Linked DNA regions of Homo sapiens. The protein of the gene in region 1 interacts with the protein of each later gene in a biochemical or structural test. Each region holds a gene or a part of one and is shown in the gene's direction. Other genes may lie near its edges.

What was found.
Region 2: the proteins of MEPE (region 1) and PHEX interact in a biophysical measurement, tested with the Homo sapiens proteins (one study listed by IntAct).

Annotation. Positions count from the first base shown.
Region 1 is NC_000004.12:87,826,434-87,838,053, forward strand, and holds the start of MEPE (matrix extracellular phosphoglycoprotein isoform a precursor), read left to right. Parts: upstream 1-6,535; 5' UTR 6,536-6,581; intron 6,582-8,269; 5' UTR 8,270-8,281; coding exon 8,282-8,335; intron 8,336-11,620. UniProt on the Homo sapiens protein: Promotes renal phosphate excretion and inhibits intestinal phosphate absorption. Promotes bone mineralization by osteoblasts and cartilage mineralization by chondrocytes.
Region 2 is NC_000023.11:22,035,325-22,044,128, forward strand, and holds part of PHEX (phosphate-regulating neutral endopeptidase PHEX), read left to right. Parts: intron 1-2,830; exon of another isoform or gene 2,831-3,070; intron 3,071-3,144; coding exon 3,145-3,213; intron 3,214-8,804. UniProt on the Homo sapiens protein: Peptidase that cleaves SIBLING (small integrin-binding ligand, N-linked glycoprotein)-derived ASARM peptides, thus regulating their biological activity. Cleaves ASARM peptides between Ser and Glu or Asp residues.

The DNA of each region.
Region 1 (11,620 bases):
TTTCAACATGTTGGCCAGGATGGTCTCGATCTCTTGACCTCGTGATCTGCTACATTCCTTTGGATATATACCCAGTAATGGGATTGCTGGGTCAAGTGGTATTTCTGCCTCTAGGTCTTTGAGGAATTGCCACACTGTCTTCCACAATGGTTAACTAATTTATACTCCCACCAACAGTGTAAAAGCATTCCTTTTTATCTGCAGCCTCACCAACATCTGTTGTTTTTTTGACTTTTTAATAATAGTAATTGTGACGTGTGAGATGGTATCTCATTGTGGTTTTGATTTGCATTTCTGTAATGATCAGTGGGGATGTTGAGCTTTTTTTCACGTATTTGCTGGCCACATGTATGTCTTCTTTTCTAAAGTGTCTAATTATGTTCTTTCCCCACTTTTTAATGGGGCTGTTGGTTTTTGTTTTTTTCTTGTAAATTTGTTTAAGTTTCTTATAGACTCTGGATATTAGACCTTTGTCAGATGGATAGATTGCAAACATTTTTTCCCATTCTGTGGGTTGTCTATTCACTCGGATGATAGATTCTTTTGCTGTGCAGAAGCTCTTTAGTTTAATTAGATCCCATTTCTGACTGAGCATTTTAAATCCTGAGCTACCATATAGGAAGTCCAGCCTATTCTGCAGGACAGAGTGATCATGTGGAGAAGCACTGTGGCATATCGGATGTGCAGCTCAGTCAAGTTTTGGGATGACTCTTGCACCCCATCTCTGACTGTGCCATTTGAGAAATCACAAGTGAGAATCATGCAGCTGAGCCAAGTCAACACACAGAACCTTGAGAGAAAACAGTGAATTTGTATTTCAAACTACGAAAAGTTTTAAGGTGGTATGTTTATAGCAACAGATAACTGGAACAGGAACTGACAAGCATAGAGAAAATCTGGGTTGGTGAGAATTAAGGAATTCATGAAAAAAGAGATAAAATAAAATGATAACACAATGCAGATAAACATGGAATTAAAAATAAGCTAAGACGATATACACCCTAATTTGGTAAGAAAATATTAATACATGTTCGATACAATGAATAGCTAGCTGGTAAAAGTCCTCAAGTTCTGTATCCTGAGAAGAAGATTCTTGGTCTTGAAAAACAAAACAGCAACCTCTGAAAAAGACTATTATGAGGGTAAGAGATATTTTCCTCTTGAGGTCACACAACAAAGTTTTGCAGCCACTTCCAGCAATGTCACCATGTCCTGAAGGAAAGGGCTAGCATCATTATAATTATATTTTAACTACATCCTCTGAGTTACATTTTAAGGTGGAGTAAGACATCTCTCTAATATAAAAATAAAAGCAAATTATATTGACATGTCTTCTCTTTGCTTGTAATAGAGGAATGGGTAAACAAAAAGCCCAGAGGAATGAACACAGCTAACTTCATGCTCTGCTGTGACCCTCCATGATTCTGCATCTGGCTGAAATTTTTATGGCTTCTGTTGAAATTCCCAAATGCTGACAGAAAAAATAATAACTAAAAATAAAATTAATTTGAGGGTAAAGGAGAAAGTTGGTTGTAAGTGATGCTTTAGAAAAGGTGACCTTTTTGAGCTTAGGATGATTATTGATACTCATGAATGAACACGTTTAAAATGAAAACATTCCTTCTGCTAAAAACAGGGCAAGACTCCCAGCACACTCATTCTGGACTCTTATTTTGGATATCAGTGGGAAGTAAATACTTCTATGAAATGCCTAAAGCCTTGACCAATCTAAGCATCTGTATGGTAAAGAAGAGATTACTCAACATGGACCCCTCTGTTCTATTCACAACACTTCAAAGACTTCCCCACTGATCCAGGAGGGGAAATACTGTATATTTGTAATGTATGTAAATTAGAAGATAGAGAGTTATTTTGGCAAGTTAGAACATACAGAAAAGTATATTGTATATGTAAAACAGAAACTTATTTTAGTTAGAACATATGGAAAAGTGTATTGTGTGAGTCTGTCTAAAATGATGACAGAGAAATGTGTTACCTTAATAGAGTCAAGAATAAATTGGGGACCATGATAGCAGGGGAAAAAGGACTTCCTAGAATACTAAGTTTAAAAAAAAATGTATACCAAAGCAATTAATCCCAGAGCACAAGTACAGAAAAGATGGGTCCTAGAAATAGATGAGAAAATAAAACAAACAAACAAAAAAGCCTTATTCCTGGGTGAGAGTCTAATAGCTGGAACTGATAGTATAGGTTCCTAGTTAGCTAGCATTTTATATGATTGTTCACACTCAAGTGATCGATAAGAAATGAAAAACCCACGACAGGATGAAGCATGTTCCATGGAGTACTTCCTTCCAGATTCTCTTTGAGGAGCAACTCTGTGTGTCAGTCTGACCCAGCAAAGTCAGGCTAGGTGCATCATTGGTGGAGGTGTCCATTTTTGAACCAGGAACGAGGAACCAGAAAAAAGTTCAAGTGTCCATTTCTTTCCCTTCTCAGTTGTTTCCCATTTTTCTTTGTTTTGTTTTGTTTTCCAGTTAAATAGAGATGGTGTGAAGATACATATTTTTTTTACAGACTCCTGGTTTTAACTTCAGTTATTGGTTCCTTAGAAATGCCATGGCAAAACTCTCTATTATACAATAACCTTTAGGAAACTTATATTGAGTTTTTGAAGTTCAATTTCAACACAGAGGGCAAGTTTTAAGAGGGTAGAAGTAAAAATCTCTACTGCATGGAACTTAGGCAAAGGATCATTCTCCTAATTTTTTTTCCCCAGAATTTCTTCTCTGCAACCTTCTAGCCAGAATAGGCTCTCATTTTTTTTTGCTTTTGTCAATTGTAGGTTCTAAATTTAAAACTCAAGTTGAATTTTTTTATGTAGCTTTGAATTCATTTTAGCTTTGAGAGCAGTATATTTAGCTACTGCCAGTTCACCCCTTGGTAGGACTAGTAGCTAAGCCAGTTTTTTTCTCTTAAAACTCTATAAATTTTCTTATCCTAGAACACAGGTTTTTCTAGATCATAATTAATTTTCCATCACTCAAATGAAAGGGAAATCTTTTTCATGCACACTGAAATTTATTTGAAACTAAGAAAAATGCATTTGAGGAATATCTGAAATTATTTATAAAATTATAGCAATAAAAAAATGAACATTTCCTAAGGCACATATCAAGTGTTTGCTCTATAACTGGATCATTCAAAATATAAAGTTAATGTTATGAAACAGTGTAACAGCTTAAAACACTGCATTATATACACATTATTATAGAAATTCCTGAATTATTTATTGCTTCAATAGCATATCCAAAGTTGAAAATGAGCATTTTTTGTGGATTTCACTTGTCTTCCATTTAGAAAGCTCTATATTTCCATTCAGTCTCAGAGTTGGCTGAACACTCTTTGTTGCCTTCTTTCCTTCCTTGACTTCCATTCCCTTGTTAGCTCCTTTCTATATCACCCAAATCCTTTTTTTTTTTTTTTTTGGACTTTGCTGAAATTCTGGTCATGGATACTGTGCTCCTTATTTTCAGTTGGAGAAACTGAGGCACAGAAAAGTTCAAATTAGTTGTTTAATCAACTTGCCACAGTAAACAGGTGGTAGAGTCAGGATTTGAACTCAAGTCTGTTTGCCTCCAAAGCTACTAGAGTTCTAGAGTTCAATATTTCCACTGTCAATGACAATATTCAAATATTCTAAAATCTATGCTTGAATGGTTGTAAGTCAACAGTGGCCCCACCCAATAGCTCAAACCTAGTCCTGGAAGATGTTCTTAAAAGCAGTTCTGTAAAAGCAGAACTACTGTTTGATCCAGTAATCCCATTACTGGGTATATACCCGGAGGAATATAACACATTCTTCCATAAAGACACATGCACACGGCTGTTCATTGCAGCCCTGTTCACAATGGGAAAGACATGGAATCAACTTAAATGCCTATCAGTGACAGACTGGATAAAGAAAATGTGGTATGTATACACCATGGAATATTATGCAGCTATAAAAATGAAAGAGATCATGTCCTTTGTGGGAACATGGCTGGAGCTGGAGGCCATTATCTTCAGCAAACTAACGCAGGAACAGAAAACCAAATACCACATGTTCTCACTTATAAGTGGGAGCTAAATGATAAGAACTTATGAACACAAAGAAGGAAACAACAGACATTGGGGTCTACTTGAGGGTGAAGGGTGGGAAGAAGGAGAGGAACAGAAAAGATAACTATTGGGTACTGAGCTTAATACCTGGGTGATGTAGTAATATGTACAACAAACCCCAGGGACATGTGTTTATCTATGTAATGAACCTTCACATGTACCTCCAAACCTAAATAAAAATTTTTTTAACAAGAAGACATGAGGTGAGGGAGAGGAGGAAAAGCAGCTCTGGATACTCAAAAGAGGAACAGCAGAATTTAGATATGATAAAAAAAAAAAAAGAGAGAGTTAGCTTGACCTAGAAAAGGCACCATTTTCTCAGGTAGAACTTATGAAATACTGTTTTGTTTGTGTTTTATGTTTTGGTTTTTGTCTATTTGGAGGGTTGAGATAAATTGACAGTTTACACTTAAATCTTATTATATATCATTTGTATATATAATATACAACTGTTAAAGGTGTGTTTCACTGTAGGTAGTTCTTATCACAAAGTATAGGTTAAATAACTCTTACATAATTTCTTATTGATGCTTTAATATATAGTCATAATGTCAATGACCTTTACAGGTATTATAATATTTTTATATTAAGTGGAACCTCTCAAACTATTACAATTATTTTGGTAGCCAGTTTGGGCAAAACAAGAGAGCAGGCAATCGCACTGGAAAGGCTTATTCTAGTATAGGTTTGTTACTTGTTTCATTAAGAAATTGAGTGTCTTAAATTGTCCATCTTATAAAATTTGTCTAAATCCAAACTCACAATATTTTCCTCAAAACCATTTTCTTCTGCATTTTTTCCAATATGAAGAAAAAATCAACTTTACTCTTCCAGTTGCTCAGGTCAAAACCTTGGTGTCATCCTGATTCTTGATTGTTTTCTCACAGGCCACATCTGGTACCTCAGCAAATCCTATTACCATTTTTCCCCAAACTTCTTCAGAATATGACCACGTCTCATCATCCCTTCTGCCGCACTCAGGTTCAAGCCTCCATCATCTCTGGCTGGGATTATTACAAGAGCTTCCTAGCCATTCTCTCTGCCTTTTTCCTACTTCAGTCACTCCTCAATCATGCCTGTGCTTAAAACCTCCAAGGACTTTTCTTCTCACTCATAGCAATGTCAAAAGCATTGCAATGACCTACAGGTCCTATACCATCTGCCATCTAATACCCTTCTGACCTCATTTGTTGCTATTCCCCTTGCTCAGGCCTCCAACCAAAGTGGCCTCTTCTCTGTTCCTGGAACAAGTCACAAGGCTTTTATTTCTGGGGCACTATTTTTCTTATTTCTTCTTCCTGGAATGGTCTTCCCATAGACAGTCATATGGCTGCAGGCTTATCTGAGTCTGTTCATGCTGCTACTACAGAATACCACAGACTGGGTAATTTATAAAAAACAGAAATTTATTTCACACAGTTCTGGAGGCTGGGAATTCCGCAATGAAGAGGCCAGCATGTTCATTGCCTGACGAGGGCTGTCTATCTCTTCTTCCAATTTGGCACCTTGCTACTGCATCTCCAGAGGGGACAAATGCTGTGTCTTCACACTGCAGACAAGCAGAAGGGCAAAAAGGGACTAGCTAGTTTCTTCTTGCCCTTTTATAAGGTCATTAATCCCATTCATACTGGGGTCTGCCTTCATGACTTAATCACCTTCTAAAGAGCCCATCTCTCAATACTGTCACCTTGGGTTTAAGTTCTAACATGGGAATTTTGGAGGGACACGTACATTGAAACCATAACAAGGTCTTTACTCAAAAGTTGCCTTCTCATTGAGGCCTTCCCAGGACTTCCTATCTAAAATTTCAACCCAGTGTCCCCACCCCCAATGCTTGTTACTCCCCAACAATACTTTTTCTCCTTAGACTTAGTATATGTCACTATCTAATCTATTTAACTCATTTATCTTGTTTATTATCTGTCTCCCTTATTGGATTCTAAGCTCCAGGAAGACAGGGATTTTTTTCTGTCTTGTTTTGTTCACTGCAGTTTCGCCAATGCCTGTCACACAGTAGGCACCTAAAACATTTTTGTTAAATGTTGCTGAATTTCACTTAGATAAAATTGACATCATAAACTTTCTACATAAAAGGATAGCAAAAATGTTTTCCATTTCTAAACTTGTTAGGTATTCAGTCAGTCCTAATTAGCAGTTCTGAAATCAATTTTGATTATCTGACAACATGATGTCCAAACTGAGGTATTTATATTTTCTGTTTATCCCACTTTCTGGAACATTTGATAGTAGCTTTCTACCACAAACACATTTTTAGATTAAAATTACTTCACCCCCTATGGTTATCTGTGGGCGCTTGTAACAAATTGTTTGCTAGCGCTGAGTGAGCCAGTGCTGATTGGCCATTGGGAACTCTAACAAACTTTAAATTTCAGCAAAATGCCCAGAGACTTCTAATCCTGCAACAAGAAGCCAGGTATTCTGAAGGTGAAAGATACCAGGTAATTTGGCTTTCATGTTCTTGACAGCAAATAGCTTTATATCATAGTTGTTTACGTTTTTAAGATGCTTGCCACCCAAGTATGGTTTTATTACTTTTGAAAATCTTCTCTACTGAGCAAAACTGTGTAATATTTGGTGCTTTGTTTTATAAAATAGGAAATGCGTTACCATGCTCTAGAAATCATCAACTAAAATTGATGATTTGATAGCAACTTTCTCTTTTTTTTTGTTATTAGCATTATCAAGATCCACAGTAACTCAGACTTCAGTTTTCTTCTATCCCTTCACTTAACAAACTGCAATCAGGAAAATCTGATCTTATTCATACTTTGAAACCTCATCTGTGTTGATATTTCTACTGATGAGCATTAACTCATTTCATAAGTTACTTACGTTGTCCTGATCTATAAAATGCTTGGAAGGGTAAACTATAGTTAGAATTTAGATCCTTCTAATTGCATTAATTTAGAAAAACATAGCCTAGGATTTTAGAATATATTTAATAGTTACAATCATTTCTCCAAATACCAGCTTTTCCTTGAGGTGTTTAAAGATTGCAAGAATATTTAGATTATTTTTTCCCATAAAAACAAGTTTTTCTTCAAGAAATCTCAGAGTGGCATAAATTTATTGTTTTCACAATATAATAATAAGATCAATAGTCCAAAGACATGTTGACTTTTTTCCAATCTAATGGCTACTTAAGTGAGCTCACTAGTTCCTGTTGGTATATTTACCAAAATATAAACAAATACCTTTATTTGTAACTAAATGTTAGTATTTTGAACATCATTTTGTTGAGCCCAATATAAAATATGATTTGCCTTTAAGTCAACTGTACATGGATTTTTCTGTAATAAGATAAAAGAATAGAAAGTTATTTAAGGTGGCAGAGAGTCTTGATGAAGAAAACTGGGTCTAGAGCCACATTGCCTGGATACTAATCCCAGTTCTGCCCCTTAATATTTGTGAATTCTAAAGCAAGTTATTTGATCTTTTTGTGTCTATTTCCTAATCTATACAACAGGCATAGTAACGCCGCCTAACTTGTAGGGTTGTTGTGAGGCTCAAATAATTGAATGCATGCAAAATTCTTAGACCCAGTGCTTGGCTCATTTTAGTATTCAATAAATGTTAGCCATTAATGTCAGTGTTGCAAAAATTAGTTCACTCTCCAGCCCATGGATGGCTACTAATTCAGACACATTGCTAATGAACATGAGACACAGATTAGGGCACCAGCCCGGAGGCAGATAAGCTTTCCTCACAGTGCAATCTGCTACCCTGACAAACTTAGAGTGTGTTATGAGCTGCTACATCAACTTAATGTCATTTTGAATTACACAAATAATTAAACAATCTCTTTCTAAAGACAAGAGGAAGAAGAGCTGATGATAGAGCAAATAAATGTGTCTATAAAATATATTTCTATCAACTGACTTTACTGTTTTAATGATATTGAATAATTTTCATTTTCACATTGGAATAACTAGACATATGAAAGTTCTTAAAATGTCCACACTCGGGTATAAGCAAGTTATACATAGTCTATACACACACATACACAAAAGGATATGAACTGCCAAGGGGAAGGGTGTTTATATATTCCTATGTGTTTTATCTCTTCTTATGGCTGCAGTTTATAACTGGCAATGCTTTGTGGTAAGATATTGTTGTCTTTTTACAGAGATTCTCAAAGATGCGAGTTTTCTGTGTGGGACTACTCCTTTTCAGTGTGACCTGGGCAGCACCAGTAAGTATTTACAAATTCAATTATATTTCAGATAATCTCTTGCTCTCTTCATTTGTTTTTCTTTCAAGCAACGTCTATTTAAATTAGTAGCATCTACCTAATTCAGTTATTTTAAAAAGAACCAAGCAAACAGAAAGCATCTAGCACTTAACACTCTTAACAAAGGAGGTTCTCAATAAACATGTGCTGAATTATGAGATCTGACAACATTGTCTTTTAAGGAACACCAAAAACAGATTTTTTGAGAAAACCAAGAGGCAGCCGCAGCATTTCAAATCAGCTGATACTAATGAGTGATACTCAAAGACTCAAATTATAACATGGTAAAATAATCTTTGACTATTTTCCTGTAAACTTAAAGAATTTGACATGAATGTTTTAAAGCTAACCAGCTAGATTTAGTAAATAGATAAAAATGCAAAGAGACAAGAACTCTTCTGTATTTCTTGCAACACCCCAATACTGTGGGATCCTACTTGTGATTTTCTCTTCATCAGCGAGGCTAGAGGTGGGACGTAGTACCTCCAAGCTTAACCCAAATCAAGCTCCTACTTCCTTGTGTGTCTTTTCTTCCCTCTGACTCACCCAGTTGAATATTCAGGATGTGACCAAATTATCTTGTGAAAATGCTGAGTGTTAGTTATTTTCTGCAATGCAGACACAGTGCTAATTAGATAATGTCTGAGCAGCATCCTAACTTATCAGAATAACCTTTTTGGTTGGAGAACCATGGAAACAAATAGTCATCCCATTGCCAATCATACTTATATATAGGTCCTGAGTGAGTGGGTGACTGCTAGGGTAACCAGGCTGATGAGGATGACCAGGGAAGCAGAGGGCCTCATGGAGGGCAGTGGAAGTTGGGGAAATGTGTTCCCTTCTCCGCACACACTCTGTGCAACAAGGGTGTGCAGTACAGTACTGTGGAGGCTGTACTGCTCACAACACACATTTGCGAGACCCCATGCACAGACCTCACTCAATCAAGGCCTAGAGGCTCAGGTGCCTCTCCCACCTCTCACGGTGGAAAAATGAGTCTTGCTGACCTAGCTCAAGTTGGCCAGCTGAAGATTTTATTTTGAGCAACATGTTCCAAGAAGCAGCTGGAGTGGGGCTTTCTCATCATTTTCCAGTAAATGTGCTATGTCAACATTGATTCAGTGACCACTGATCAGAAGAGGATGCCAGCTTTCCTGCCCAGAGGCAGACAATGCCATCTCCATTACAGGGCCACATTCAAGCCTAAGACATCTGCTTGGGGGTATAGAGGGGACAAGGGAGGGATGCGTATTTCAAATGAAAGCAGCTCAGCAAGGATGCAGAGGCAACATTTGTAACTGTGAATCATTAAATATGATGTTTTCTTCCAGGTATATAGATGCCATTTTAGTAATTACCTGAATTTTTAAATGATAGATTGGTGGCTTAAGAAATTAGTATATACTCAGCCACTTGCATACGTCTTAGAATTATAAGCCAAATTCTAAATGATTTTTAAAAGGAAGAAAATGAATGTTTATTAGGCTATGCAATTCGGTTAATATTCATCAAGATGCAGTTAGACTAGAAAGACTTTGTTATAAGTCACAATAAATCAAAACTGTACCGAGGTACTCTATATTGTCAAGTATGTTTCTAATCCATATGTGTGTGTGTGTGTGTGTTCTGTAAGAAGATCCCTGACACCCCATACTATCATTTCTTTCTTTTGCTTAATATCTGCCCATCTCATTTTTATGCTTTCTTCTTCCTATAGTCCAATTTCCAGAACTGTTTGCCCTGGTTTTATATTTTTGAAGAGTGATATAATTGTCCAAATTTATATTCACATGATCATATAAGAATCAACATAAGAAATGCAATAAAGGATAAAACTATAAAAGATGCCTTGACGATAATTAATATAAAGTTTAGGAACATTTCCTCTTATTACTAAATGCTTTTTCATATTTAATCATTCAAAAATTTATTATTTTAACCCTGGGACTTTGAGGCAGAAGATTTAAATTAAAATATCTTCTCTACTTCTACTGCAACTACCAACTATGAGTGTAGGCACTTCTGTTTCTTCTACTGCTCATCTTATAAAGGTTACTTTGGGACTCATATGAGATTATAAGTACAAAAGCAGTTTACAAACTATAAAGAGTCCTATAAATAGAAGGTGTTATTGATAAACTATTGTTATTTTCTAGAATGGAATTGAATATTAGGCAGCTATGCCTTGGAGTCCAGCCATGGAGGTGCTTTCTAAACTTCTGAGTTTTATATTTTGAAGATGATTTTATCTGCCAGAGTCCAGTCCAGAAAACAAAATCCACTACAGGGAGCTCAGTAGAGCGACTTTCTAAGGGAAGCTAGCTATAAAGTATAAGGAAGAACAGAAAAGCCAACCAGGGGTGGTGAGACCACCCAAGGATCGAAGCTATTACCAGGCTTAGGGCTGGAAGGAAAAAAAAAGGTGCTGCTCCTAGGCCCCTGGCTGGGGGAACTAGGACCACAAAGGAGATGTACCCAACTCTAGAGATGCAGCCCCAAACACGGAGAGTAGAGAAGGACATACCCTGGCTTCTCTCTCCTTCCCCCCCTCCAGACTCATGCCAGGCCTCCTTCACCCAAACCCAGTCTGAACACAGAGGGCAAATGAGCTTGGGAAATGAAGGAATCAGTTCAGATTGAGCTGGAGATACAAAGGAGCTGAGAGCAAGCAGGGGCATTCCCAATATCTTAGTGCAAGCAACAACCTGTCTGTATTAAACAAAATATAGAAGCTTAAGGCTTCTTCAGGAAGAACACTTTCCAGGTAAATAGGACAGCTGGCCTAGGCGGCCCTCTTTCTGTTTATCTCTTTATTCAATCTTTCCCTTAAGGGGTTCTCTCTTTTATATGATTGATCCACCATGATGCCTGCTTCCACTGTAGCACACCCATTCAAACACGGCCCAGTCCGCCCATTGGTTCCCAGTGCCACATCTGAGATAGGCTAGGAGTTTCTGAAAGAAAGAGGTAAATGAAAAATACTGAGAATTAAAGAACTTACATCTATTCCTTTAATAAAACAGTTGCTCTCAGATTTTAGGGTCCCTGTTCTGTGTGCTTTCCTGTGGTATGCAAACTTCAGCCCAAAGGACTGGGACAAACTGCCGAGGTCTGTTCTTTCTTCATTTCTGCCCTTTCTGCGCTTCAATAGCTACCCCTCACCCTACGCTACCCTCAAGAAATTTTGACACTTTATGTCAAACCAAGAAACAGAATTTATCCTAATCTGCTGGCCACCTCCATTTT
Region 2 (8,804 bases), on another chromosome or scaffold:
GTTTCTCAGATGCACTGGCTGGCAAACTTTTTCTGCCAAGAGCCAGATAGATAGTGAATATATTTGGCTCTGTGGGCCATACGGCCTCTTGCAACTACTCAATTCTGCTGTTGTTGCACAAAAGCATCCATAGACAATATGTACACAAATGGGCATGGCTGTGTGCCAAGAAAATCTGATTTCTAGACACTGAAATTGGAATGTTATATACTTTTCATATGTCATGAAATATTATTTTCCTTTTTATTTTTCCTGACCATGAAAAAAATGTAAAAGCCATTCATAGCTCATGGGCTGTACAGAAACAGGCAATGGATTTGACCTACAGGCCATAGTTTGCTGACCCCTGCTTTCTGGCCATTCTTATGCTCTTGATCTGTGGATGACTCCACTGCATCCTAAGGGCATTTCCTCTGGTTATAGAGAAATCTACAATGAGAAACCAAACTGCTATTTACATGTATTTTTTAAAGCTCCTAACCATTCAAAAGTAACATCTTAATTTTTATATTAAAAATATTTTCTTTATTGTCTCTATTTCATTCACTTACACCTTCACATTATCTGGGCTTATTGATCCTCATTTATTTGGAGAATTTTAAAATAACCCCATCCATGGAGATAATGCTCTTCCTTGAGGGGTTGGGTCTGTCAGTGTCCCAATTAATTAATTATACACACACACACACACACACACACACACACACGTACATATATATATATATATATATTTTTTTTTTTTTTTTTTTTTTTGAGACGGAGTCTCACTCTGTCACCCAGGCTGGAGTGCAGTGGTGCGATCTTGGCTCGCTACAACCTCCGCCTCCTGGGTTCAAGCAATTATCCTGCCTCAGCCTCCTGAGTAGCTGGGATTACAGGCGTGCACCACCACGCCCAGCTAAGATTTGTATTTTTAGTAGAGATGGGGTTTCACCATGTTGGCCAGGCTGGTCTCGAACTCCTGACCTCAGGTGATCCGCCCACCTCGGCCACCCAAAGTGCTGGGATTGCAGGCCTGAGCCACCGTGCCTGGCCTAATTAGTTATATTTAAAACCTTCCTTCTGCTCATCGTTAGATAAAGATACCTGATTTTACTTCTTCCTTTGAGGTTTTGGGTCAAGAATTATCTCTCATGAAAGGAATAAGTCTTTAACGATTTTATTAGCTATTTTGTTTTTTAAAATAAGGCTAGGATCAAGAAGGTATTGTCCAGAATTATAAAAATATTATTTACAATAAAGCTTATTTTTGCATTATATAAAAGAACACATGCTCACTAAAGAACATTAGGTCAACATATAAAAATTGACTGATGGGGAAAATTCCCCCTGAGGTTCTGCCACCCAGGCATATTGGAATATTGCACACTAATCTTTATGCTGCCCATATATATTTTTTTACATAACTTTTTTTTTTTTTTTGCTTTATACAGAAATCAAAACACACCTTTTTGCTAAGAAACTTATTTTCTTAAAAACAGGACTGAGATGGGCCAGGCGCAGTGGCTCACACCTGTAATCCCAGCACTTTGGGAGGTCGAGGCGGGCGGATCATGAGGTTAGGAGATCGAGACCATCCTGGCTAACACGGTGAAACCCCATCTCCACTAAAAAATACAAAAAAATTAGCCGGGCGTGGTGGCGGGTGCCTGTAGTCCCAGCTACTCGGGAGGCTGAGGCAGGAGAATGGCGTGAACCCGGGAGGCAGAGCTTGCAGTGAGCCAAGATCACCCCACTGCACTCCAGCCTGGGTGACAGAGTGAGACTCTTGTCTCGAAAAAAAAAAAAAAAATAGGACTGAGATGTTTCATCGGCAGTTTTCTTGAATCTCTAATGTAACACAATGCAATGCAAAGAGGCTGTTTGGAGGATGGCAGCAGAGAAAAAGAACAAAGGAAAAGCAGGCTCCATTTAGAGAGTGGGTTAATAAATAATAAAAACTCGCCACACTGGGTAGTAATCTACAGGTCTTCCATCTCTAGCAGAAATATAGGTACTGCCGAGCTTTCTGCCACAGAGGGCCTTGGTCCCCATTCACCTCCCACCATCCCTCTCCCCATGGCCACATCTCCAAATGATTCATTGTTTCTGCTCACAGAGCACAGCAAGAATGAATTCCCCAGAATTTCCTCAGCTACTACAAATACTTTTGAAATCTTAAACTAACATCTGCTAATGCCCAGGTGCTACCTGGGGTTGACAAATTGGGCACCCTTCTGTACTTCTGCAGACACCTATTTAGATAATGTTGCCAGGCAGATGGAGATATTAAGCCATTGGTGAAAAGCTATTTCAATTTTAGACTTTTTTTTTTTTGGAGTGGGGGAAGGGAGGAAATAGCTGGAAGCTTGGTCCACAAAGTTGCAAATGTCTGGTAGCTAAGCTGGGCCTGGTGGGCGGAGAGTTTGTGGGGTTCAGGGCAGGCGGACAATGACTGTTGCTATCAATAGGTGATTGAGATATGTTCAGTATATTCTTTACCCCTACCCCTTTTTTGGTCCGTATCTGTATGGATGGTTTAGATAAGATCCAGAACTCTAAAAGCCAAACATGCTAGCTTTCTATTTCCACTCTGATTGGCTCCAAATGACATAGTTTAAAAGTTTCAATTTTCCCATCTTGAACATGGGCATGGAGTTATAAACCAATAGAGTGAAAGTATGAGACTTAAACCACTGATAATTGGAGGCTGAAGCGACTTTAGAGAGTGTCTCGCCCAGTGGTGCTCATATTTGAGCATGTATCGGAATCACCTGGGGGGCTTGTTAAACCGCAGATGGCTGGGCCCCACCCCCAGGGTTTCTGAGTCAAGATCTTGGAGTGGCTTTCTAACAAGCTTCCAGGTGCAGCAGCAGCAGCTGCTGCTGCTCTAGAGACCACACTCTTAGGAGCTCTGGTCTAGTTATACTCACTTATCTTACGTACGAGAGAACTGAGTTTCAAAGCAACCAAGAGTCTTACCAAGGTTATTTAGCTAGCAGCTAGAGTCTGGTTTCGTGACATTGAACCAACTGGGTTTTGGAATACCGTGTCAACACTGAGAAGGATGAACTGATATCAAATATCTTGCGTATGTTTCCGAGGGTGGTTTACCGGATGGTGGTCTGCTACAACTCAGCCATTTATTGTGGTCTGTTTTTTCAGTGAGTCAAGGTCTCTTAAGTCTCCAAGCTAAACAGGAGTACTGCCTGAAGCCAGAATGCATCGAAGCGGGTAAGTCACAGTTTTCCATCCTGTGTCAAGTTATAATTATGGTACCTTGGGAAGTGGAAGAGAAGACAGGTGGTATTTTTAGTATTCTGTTTGCTTGAGGTTTACCAAGTACGAAATGCAATTTTGAAGAAATTTTAAGTTTATTTTCAAGTTTTGGTGTGAAACAGTGGAGCTTAGGTTTCCTGTTTTCTTTTTCCTTGCAAAAACTGTGGTATTCTAAGCGTTGTTACAAGGAAATCAGGAAGGGGCTTGGAAGGCTGAATGGCCTCTCTTAAGACCCACAGGCAGAGAACATTGGTCTTCCTATGGCTCCGCTGGCTATGAATTCCTCTTTACCTTAAGCAGTTGCCTATCTTCTGGTCTGTGGGTCTGACTTGCCTGCCTCTAAGCAAGGCTCCTTTGCAAATAAATCCACGCTTCCATTGTCAGTGGGAGTCCCTTTTCTCTTTTTTAAAAATTGAGACGGAGTCTTGCTCTGTCGCCCAGGCTGGCACGATCTCAGCTCACTGCATCCTCCACCTCCTGGGCTCAAGTGATTCTCCTGCCTCAGCCTCCCTAGTAGCTGGGATTACAAGTGCCCACCACCACGCCCGGCTGATTTTTGTATTTCTAGTAGAGACGGAGTTTCACCTTGTTGGCCACACTGATCTCGAACTCCTGACCTCAAGTGATCCACCCGCCTTGGCCTCCCAAAGTGCTGGGATTACAGGCAAGAGCCACTGTGCCCGGCTGGGAATCTCTTTTTTCTGTCACACGTTGCAAGTCAAACTTCTCTTGAGGTGACCAGGCTGTGTATCAGTGGATATCCCAGGGTGAAGATGAGTGTTTAAAGTGGCCGCAGTTTTGCCACAGTGTCTTATCCCATCAAACTCATGGCTGGAGTTGCCCCAAAAGCAGCAACAGGGAAATTCCCATGAGGGAATATCCCATCCCGAGATGGGGCCAGTTGGGATTCCAAAGAAAGAAGCACTAAATAAATGCCAGGGCGGCCGGTCAGTCCAAAGCATTTATTAGTGCAACTTATGTTGAAAGTGCTGCAGTGTATCCTCAAGACAGTGAGAGAAAAGGGGTGTTCTACTTAGGGCATTAGGGTGTGGAGACTATATGCGGGTTTAAGGAATTTGGCTCAGAGCCGGTACTAGTTTCTTTCAGTGTTTTGTGCATCAACCTAGATACCTTTATCAGTGCCTGGGAATGTTCAAGGGTCCAGTCTGGACCTAAGCCTGCTGGGAAAAACCAGCAGCTGGAATTAGCCGGGCATGGTGGCTCATGCCTGTAATCTCAGTTACTCGGGAGGCTGAGGCATGAGAATTGCTTGAGCCCAGGAGGCGGAGGCTGCAGTGAGCTGAGATTGCACCATTGCACTCCAGCCTCGGTGACAGAGGGAACTTCTGTCTCAAAAAAAACAAAACAAAACAAACCTGCAGGTGGCTGGGTCACAGAGTGGTCAGGGGATTGTGTAATTTTTGGTTAGGACACCGAAAGCGGCGGTGGGGAGGTGAGGGGAAACCTGGGGGTCCCACACACAGCTATTAGATTTCCCTCCTAAATCAGTGTTAGGGCCTAGATTTCAGGGAGCCAGATTCTAGCCCTCACCCTCATTCTTTAAGTGGGCAGGGACACTTTTTTCCTTTTTCCAAAAGGAAAGTCATCAAACAAGCATGTGGCCCTTTCACTTTCCTCTTGGCCTTAAAAGGTTAATGAACAAATTCACCAAATATTTGTTGCACATGAGGTACTGAGTTAGGTTTTGGAAATAGAGCAGTGAACCAGGTATGGGAAGAAAGACAATAAGGCAATTAATACAATGAGAAAATTATGAAACTGGGTGTGGTGACACGTGCCTTTAGTTCCAGCCACATGGGAGGCTGAGGCTTGAGCCCTGGAGTTGGAGGCCAGCCTGGGCAAATTAGTGAGACCCCATCTCTGAAAGAAAGAAAGAGGAATATCAGTCAGTGGAAAATGTTATAGAGAAAATTAAAAAAAAGATAGAACAATGTGATAGCAAGTGACAGGATGGCTAGATTGAAAAGCCGGAGGACATGACCTTGGAGGTGACCTTTGAATGATGAGGAGGGAACTGCTGTGTGAAGACTGAGGCAAGGGCTTTCCAGGTGGGGGGAACAGATGGGGCAAAGGGTGCATAGAAGCATGAACTTGGTGGACTTGAGGAACGGGAGGAGCTTGCTAGGTGAGGTGCAAGTGATGAGGAGTCAATGGGGGACCCAAGTGCCAGTGAGTTTGGGCTTTCCTTAAGTGTGCTCGAAAGCCTCTGGAGGCTTTTATGAAAGAGAATACATCTTAGGAGCATTTCAAAAGATGTCTCGGTGGAGGGCTCAGTTAGAGGGAGTCTTTCTTGATGGAGAAGAGACCATAGGGAGCAAGAATAGAAGAAGGTGACTCAAGTAGGTTTATTTCTGTACGCCAGGTGACAGACGATGCTGTCTTGAATTCAAGAGATGGAGAGGGAGAATGGGGGAAGGTTTAGGAGGTAGAGGGCCTATTGAAGGATTCGATGCAGGCTGTGAACAAAAGCAGACAATTGTGGGTGACGCTTAGATTTTTGGTGATGGTTGGGCAGTGGTGTTTATTGAGATGGGAAACACTTAGGTGAAAGAGCTTGTAAATTCGGAGACCTTATACAAAGGTAGTGGCTTAGATAATTATGTTAGTAGAGTTCTTTTTTTGTTCCATTCTTAAGTGATCTCTCTCTCTCTCTCTCTCTCTCTATATATATATATATATATATATATATATATATATATTTTAACCAGGCTGTGTGTTGAGTGCCTTACAGGCACCATCTCATAAAACCTTCATAAGACCCCTATGAAGTCAGTGCTATCACCAGCCTCACTGACAGATGAGGAAATGGAGGCTTCTGGAGGCTAAATAACTGCCCAGGGTCTCATCCTGAGTTAGTAGCAGAGCTGGACTTCGTGTCCATGTCTGGCTCCTTTCCGTCTTTTCCTTGGTGATATGGGGCCATGCCAGGCAACTCTTTTTGGCCCTGGAACTATCTGAGAACTCCCAGGCCCTTTCCTGCTCCAGGCTTGAGTAGTTGACCTGAGGTTTTCTCCAGTGGTGAGAGATTGTCATGGAGTGGGGTGAGAGAGCAGGCGGAACTATCAGGACAGGTTTTAGAGTTTATGTCACCTGGTGCTTTGGCTGTGGTGGGGTTCTTGCAGATGTGTGAAATGGGAATTTTTGAGCTCATAAATTTTCAACTTGAGTTTAGAACACTTTTTTGTATGGAAGGCCACTTATTTCATGAGTTTTAGTTCTGTATTATGAATCATAATAATGCAAGACTAAAACTTACAGACTGACATTCAAAGATGTTGCCTTCTGCCAGCTAGTGTGTTCTGCCTTGCTGTCCTGTTTTTAATTTTCACATTGGCGAATGGCTTTCTAATGTTGAAAAAAAATATTGATTTTGCTGTTTCTGGAGTGAAAGGCTCACCAAAGACCCAGTTCTCTTTAGTGTAACGTGAGCCTCAGTGTGCCCAGGGGTCTGCAGAACAGCTGTGAGTACACATGGCAGGAGAATTACGGCCAAGCCAGGGCCTTAAACAAGAGGCTGTGCGTGCGTGGGCGTGCATGCTGAAAGTTCAGAAGACTAGAGTGTTTGATCGCCTTCTGGACCATTTCTGAGCAGGTGCCAACCACTTCTGAGATGCTTCCTCTCCATAACTCTCCTCTTCTCTGTGTCCTCTTATTTTAATCCCTCTTTCAAAATAAGAGCTGTGCAAAGAATGCAAAGAAACAAGGAAAGGGCATGCATGCTCATGATCACAGATAAGGGCAGACAGGCTGACTGGGTTTGAAGCATGATTTAGCTATTTACAAGCCACATGATCCTGGGCTAAATATATAGCCACGCTAAGCCTCAGTCTCACCAAGTGTGAAATGGGAATAACAGGTTTTACTTATACTAGTCGTGAGAATAAAAGAAAATAATAATGGACTGGGCACGGTGGCTCTCGCCTGCCACCCCAGCACTTTGGGACGCTGAGGCGGACAGATCACTTCAGGCCAGGAGTTCAAGACCAGTCTGGCCAACATGGTGAAACTCCATGTCTACTAAAAATACAAAAATTAGCCAGGCGTGGTGGCGCAAGTCTGTAATCCCAGCTACCTGGGAGGCCGAGGCAGGACAATCACTTGAACCTGGGAGGTGGAGGTTGCAGTGAGCCGAGATTGCAGGTTGAATCTGCACTTCAACCCCAAGGGGGAGGTTGCAGTTCAGCCTGGGCAACATAGTGAGACTCCGCCTCAAAAAAAAAAAATTAGAAAAAGAAAATAATAATGGTAGTAGCAGTAATTTAGGTTCACAATGCTGATTCTTAACCCCAAACCCAGAAAACGATGTAACTCTCAGTTGGCAAGATGGGGGCCTGATCTCAATTCCTTTGATGGCAAAATTGGATCTTAACTCATGTGAGGCTGCTTCAGATTTCATTTATCCTACTTACAAGAATATGCATATGTTTCCCTATAGAAACATTAATGCACTTGCTTCAGGCCTGCCACTCCAGCCATTGCTGAAGTATTACATGATCTGTGGTTATATGCAATGTATTTATTTTCTAAAATCTGAAAAATCTATGAGCTCTGAAACATATCTAACCTCAAGAGTTTCAGATAAGTGATTGTGGAATTACAGTTCCCAGATTTAGCTAACTACATACATACGTACATACAGGATGCTTAGTGAAATTTGATTGCAGATACACAATGACTACTTTTTCTGGTGTATGTCTCATGGACTATTTGGTACCTACTTATTCTAAAAGGTGGTTGTTTATCAGAAATTCAGACTTCACTGGGCATCATGCATTTATATGGTAATGTGCCCAACACTATTCTAAGCACTTTACATATATTTAATTTGCATAATGATTCCATGGGGTGCTATTATTATCCCCATTTTCAGGTGAGGAAACTAAGACACAGGTTAAATCACCTGCCTAAGGTGTCTTAGCTGCTGCATGGTGTTTCTCTCATTCAAACACAAGTGGTCTGACTAGAGTTTGTGACGATACCATATTGCTAAAAAAGGGCTTAGCGTAGGTCCTGGCAAAAAGGAAATACTCAATATTGGTGATTTTATTATTGTTAATTATTATTATTACTACTCTCTCCCTTCATCCTTGATTAAATCTAAAAACAGAGGCTGGTATTTAGGGAGGATGCCTCCACCTCTACCACACAAACAGCAACTGGTGACTGTGTGACAATTAACCTTATATATAGTGACTTGGAAGAGTACACAGCCTGAGCTTTCACAGATTTCCTTCATCATCATATTTCTTTTATTAAAACAAGACTCTGGGTTTTCTCCATGGAGCTGAGTAGGGGGAAAGGCGTTTTGGTGTCTTGACAACTATGGTCCCTTGCAATTTGAAGTCACAGTTCCCCTGCAGAAAGTGCAGCCCTGTGCCCCGCTGTGAATTGTGAATGATGAATTGGGAGGCTGCAACTAGAGTTTTCTCACTCAGCAGGCTTCTTTCCAAATTCAATGTGAGTGATGTATTTCCCAACTTTTGTATCAGGGCCAAGGTCAGAGCTGACCTTGCAGTTTTTCTAGG